2 separate regions of the Homo sapiens genome follow, and region 1 is linked to region 2. A link means that fine-mapping ties the variant in region 2 to the expression of a gene that starts in the linked region. Tissue or cell type: prefrontal cortex. Region 2 holds a variant in brackets; the other region holds the start of a gene. All regions are shown on one strand. Distances are between the middles of the regions.

What was found. PIP is the estimated chance that this variant, and not a neighbour inherited with it, causes the effect.
Region 1: PISD starts here. The variant in region 2 is fine-mapped to the expression of PISD in prefrontal cortex (BrainSeq, PIP 0.95).

Annotation. Positions count from the first base shown.
Region 1 is chr22:31,660,562-31,663,319 of GRCh38, forward strand. It overlaps PISD (phosphatidylserine decarboxylase), which reads right to left and starts at 1,654. Exons shown (of 8, transcript NM_001326411.2): 1 at 1,583-1,654. The coding sequence starts at 1,647. RefSeq lists enhancers at 1-385, 386-1,279, 575-714, 688-1,887, 1,105-1,154 and 1 more.
Region 2 is chr22:31,702,411-31,705,168 of GRCh38, forward strand. It overlaps PRR14L (proline rich 14 like), which reads right to left. Exons shown (of 9, transcript NM_173566.3): 5 at 2,245-2,316; 6 at 1,140-1,311. Among named protein-coding and RNA genes, the nearest start is that of PISD, 42 kb to the left of the region's middle. The variant A/AT (reference allele first, on the strand shown) is at 1,387.

The sequences.
Region 1 (2,758 bases), 42 kb before region 2:
GTGGAAGAACTGCTTGAGACCAGGAGGTGGAGGCTGCAGTGAGCCATCATCACACCACTGCACTCCCTCTTGGGCAACAGAGTGAGGCTCTGACTTCCAAAACAAATAACAACAACAAAAAACAATTTTTTAAGAGTCTCATTTTAGTCCTTTCAATTCGTGACACACTTTATTTATTTTTAATTTTTTTGAGACAGAGTCTCACTCTGTCGCCCAGGCTGGACTCCAGCGGCGCAGTCTTGGCTTATTGCAACCTCCGCCTCCCAGGTTCAAGCAATTCTCCTGCCTCAGCCTCCCAAGTAGCTGGGATTACAGGTGCCTGCCACCATGCCCGGCTAATTTTTGTATTTTTTAGTAGAGACAGGGTTTCACCACATTGGCCAGGCTGGTCTCGAACTCCTGACCTCAAGTGATCCACCCACCTTGGCCTACCAAAGTGCTGAGGTTACAGGCGTGAGCCACCGCGCCCAGCCTGTGACACACTTTAAATGAATTCAGGGTTGACTCATACACAGCACGCCTGGTAATAACATTGAAAACAAAGTCTCCTGCCCAAATTCTAACAGTTACCACCACAATGCAGAGCCCTCTCCTGAGAGATAATCATTTCTGTACAGTTAATGATGAAAGAGTGACGCTTTCATAACAAGACCAATGATGGTTTCTGTTCCCTCTCAGTCCAAATCCAGTGTCCGTCTCCTCCCAAAACAATAGGTTATCCTCTGATCAACGCTGACAAAATGAACCCTGTAGGAAACACACAAGTATGGCGCATCTCTCAAATCTTAGCTCTTTGAAATGACACCAGGCAGCCGACTCTGAATCACAGCTACATTTTAATCCATTTTCCGACACTCCAAATGCTCTAAGCTATTTTCTGTATAACCACTGCCCTCACGGCGGGCAGCCTGAGAGAAAGATCGTCGCGTGAGGGGGTACCTTGATGGGGGTCCGGGCTCTGCTACAAACTGGCTAGGTGAACTTGAGCAAATCCCTCCCTCTCTCGGAGCCTCAATCTCATTAACTCCAAAGAGAGACAGCTGGACTCAGAAGACCCCTCAAGTCTCCCACATTTCTAAGAATCTAACAGCTGGGGGTCACAAGGGTAACCAAGACTCTAGCCCCATAACATATTGTTTTGAGATTACCTAACCTAACCCTCTAGCTTCAAAGACTAAGATCCAGAAATGAAAGTTGCCTGACACTCAATCTAGTGTCCTTCCCACAGGACATCATTCCTTCTACGAAAACGAACACACGAGAAAATGGCATCTGAACATCTGAAAGCCCTGCCTCGACTCAAGAGACGGGCAGGTAGCCTATTTCATCTGATTTTTGTCCCTCGTGAACTTCCACCTAGCTGGAAAGGGCAAAGCGCGAGCTTCTAGGCCACACCCTAAGTAAATCCGGACCGCCCTACGCAGGAGCAGTCGCACCTGCTCCTAAGCTCGAGGTGAAGGTGGCTCCGTCTCCACCCGAGCTCGCCTCAGAGCGAGCCCGCGACACAGAAACATCTCTCTTCAGACCCCAGCTTGGTCCAGGTTGCCCCACGCCCCAAGGTAGTCTCTCCGCGCTGCTATACCTGCTCCGCCACGGCGCGACCCCGTGCAGTAATCCCAGACATCGGTGCCCCACGGACGTCGCCATCTTGTCTGCTCCTTCTCAGCGTGCCACGCCCCCTTCACACGCTGGGCGCACGCTTAAGGCGTCACGAGTCTCGAGTTCAGTGGGCCAATGAGAAAAGCGCGGGTTGGGGGCGGAGCCGACTAAGCTCCGCCCTGTGGCTACTCCCCACCTAACCCGCTTGGCACCTGCGGAGGTAGGGGAACTAGTGGAGCTGTAGGTTTCGCTAAACCTGGGCTTGGTCGCAGCACTGCCACTCCTCCTCCTTCCCTCTGGGTGCCTTTCCTCATGTACCTGGAAAATCTGAGTCATCCAAGATCCAAGAATGTCGTTTCAAGTGATCGAACTTGCTCATTTTACGGATGGGGAAACTGGGCATCCATGACTCAGCTCTCGTTTTTTAAGCGCCGGAGTGTGTTGTGAGCACTTTGCAAGCATGGTGTCATATCATTCTTATCTCCTACCGCTGTGCTGCCAGGGAGACCGGGGGCAAACGGTCTTGGATCACCTAGAAATGCAACCAGTCGTTAAATTCGGTGCCTGGTGCTTGCTCTTGAAAAGGTTCCTATCTTCAATTGTAAGAGGAAAACGAGTTTTCAATCATGTCTGCTACTTTTTACTGAGCACTGACTAGAGACTCGCAGCTAGGCCCGAGACATTATCCCCATTTTAAAGATGAGGTACCTGAGGCTCAGGAAGGTTAAGCAACATCTTCAAGGGTACATAAAGGGCATATGCCCAAAGACTATAAAATAGTGAAGCCAGAATTTGAACATACGTCTCTGACTCCAAAAACCATGTCCTAAACATCTTCTTCTTTTTTTTTTTTTTTTGAGACAGAGTCTCTCATTGTCGCCCAGGCTGGAGTGCAGTGGCGCGATCTCGATTCACTGCAAGCTCCGCCTCCCGGGTTGACGCCATTCTCCTGCCTCAGCCTCCCGAGTAGCTGGGACTACAGGCGCCCGCCACAACGCCCGGCTAATTTTTTTATATATATTTTTCGTAGAGACGGGGTTTCACCATGTTAGCCAGGATGGTCTCGATCTCCTGACCTCGTGATCCGCCCGCCTCGGCTTCTCAAAATGCTGGGATTACAAGCGTGAGCCACCGCACCTGGCCTAAACATTCTTCCTTT
Region 2 (2,758 bases):
GGGTTTCTCCATGTTGGTCAGGCTGGTCTCAAACTCCCAACCTCAGGTGATCCGCCCACCTCGGCCACCCAAAGTGCTAGGATTACAGATGTGAGCCACCGCATCTGGCCTTATTTATTTTTTGAGATGGAGTCTCACTCTGCCGCCCAGGCTGGAGTGTGGTGGTGCAATCCAGGCTCACTGCAACTTCCACCTCCTGGGTTTAAGCGAATCTACTGCCTCGGCCTCCAGAGTACCTGGGATTACAGGAATGTGCCACCACATTTGGCTAATTTTTGTATTTTTAGTAGAGATGGGGTTTCACCATACTGGCCAGGCTGGTCTCGAACTCCTGACCCCGGGTGATCCGCCCGCCCTGGCCTCCCAAAGTGCTGGAATCACAGGCGTGAGCCACCGTGCCCGGCCTTTTATTTTTTTTTTAAGATGGGGTTTCACTCTGTCACTCAGGCTGGAGTGCAGTGATGCAATCTGGGGTCATTGCTGCAAACTCTGCCTCCCGGGCTCAAGCAATTCTCCCTCCTCAGCCTCCCGAGTAACTGGGACTGCAGGTGTGCACCACCACAGTCAGCTCATTTTTGTCTTTTTTGTAGAGACACAGTTTTGCCAGGTTGCCCAGGCTGCTATTGAACTCCTGGACTCAAGCGATCCGCCCGCCTCAGCCTCCCAAAGTGCTGAGATTACAGGCGTGTGCCACCGTGCCTGGCCCCTGCTGTGTTTTAAGCAACTACTCCCTTCATATCATCAAAACAAGAATTGTACATTCAGTTCAGATATTGAGACTGTCAACATGAAAGTTTGCAACTGTTGAAGACAACAGACGTTGCAAAATTGAACATCATCACCATCCACTCATCTTCTTTGAATGCACAAAGCAGCTCTTTCGTCCAATTCTCTAAACACTGTTACATGCTGTTGGCAAGAAAAAAGTATCTGGAAAACAATGCAGATTAAAAAATCCACTGTGTCCTTTACTGGCCAAGAGAAAAACTCCTGGCTTAGTACTCTCCAGAACTCGGCTGACACTGAAGGTGGTACGTAAAGATACTCAGAAGCCAGTCTGTAGCTATAATGCGATGTGAGTTGACAATGGCCACCTCCAATGCCACCATCATCTGACCCAACCAGCACTTTACACTTACCTCTTTCTGTTCTGGGGGGCTGCTCTGTGGGCAGGGGCATGCTGCTTTCACACCATCCAGCTCATCCAATCCACGAACCTGGAACTCAGAGGCTGAAAGCAGGAGCTTGCTGACAGCTGATTCTGCTACCAAGCAAGACTTTGGTACCAAGGCAGGGAATGGAGGCTCCAGCCTAGCACCATGAAGAGAAAGAAGATATGAGAGGGGTTCCCTTTCTACTTCCAGCACATTCAACTTCTTCTTCTTC[A/AT]TTTTTTTTTTTTTTTTTGAGAAGGAGTTTTGCTCTTGTTGCCCAGACTGGAGTGCAATGGTACGATCTCGGCTCAATGCAGCCTCTGCCTCCCGGGTTCAAGCAATTCTCCTGCCTCAGCCCCTCGAGTAGCTGAAATTACAGGCATGCGCCACCACGCCCAGCTAATTCTGTATTTTTAGTAGAGACGGAGTTTCTCCATGTTGGTCAGGATGGTCTTGATCTCCCGACCTTAGGTGATCCACCCGCACCGGCCTCCCAAAGTGCTGGGATTACAGGTGTGAGCCACCACGCCCAGCCTCAACTTCTTAACATCTAGGCCTCAATACTTTTTCTTTCTTTCCAGAGAATAATATATCCAGTCAACCTGCATTCTAGTCACTTCCAGACATAGCCTGTATCTACATATGTAAAAAAATTACAAGAATGTGTAATCCATTTTATTGCTATGGAATTTTATAAGGAAAAATGTAAAAAGGAACAGACTTTTTGGGTGAGGAAGATATCTGGTAAACCGCACAAATGAACAGTACTCAGATAAGATCAATCCTGTCCAGGGACTGAAGTTGGCTGTTAAGACATGAAATAGCTTGAGAGGGGACTTCTGGTACAATAAGCTGGTTAGTGATTTTCACTTTTTTTTTTTTAACAAATTGTATTATTACACATTCCTAGTTGCTGCTTGTAATAGAACAGATTTCAATCTCAGAAATGTTTATCTGAGAGACATAGATCAGGTTTACAAGGACAAGAGGTCAAAGTCATGCCACAGACGATCCACACCACCTATGTATGCACTCTCTCTCTTGCACACACACACGCACACGCGCACACACACGCTGAGTCTCATGTGCTTACCTCGTCTGACTGCCGCTGGTGTTATATGTAGCTTCCATGCCTGGAAGAGGCACATATGGTAACATGGTGTGGCTAAAGTAAAGCAAAAGTACAAAAGCAATAGGTAAGGGCAGTGGGATAACAGGAAAGGTTTTGATGTTATTGTGGGTATTAGCACATGATAGCCCCAAGAAGACAAGAAATGTCAGTTACTCAGAAAGAGGAAAGCTTTCCAACCAGGAGAGTTATATTTATGTGCCCATCACTGGAATGGAGGCAGACTGACAGGAAGATTATTTTCTAACTTGAATGGAAAGAAGGCAGAGACAGAAAGAAAGAACAGTGGCTGGGCAAGGTGGCTGATGCCTATAATCCCAGCACTTTGGGAGGCTGAGGTGGGCAGATCGCTTCAGCCTAGGAGTTCAAGACCAGCTTGGGCAACATGGCGAGACCTTGTTTCCACAAAAAATACAAAAATTTAGCCAGGGGTGGTGGAGTGCACCTGTGGTCTCAGCTACTCAAGAGGCTGGGGTGA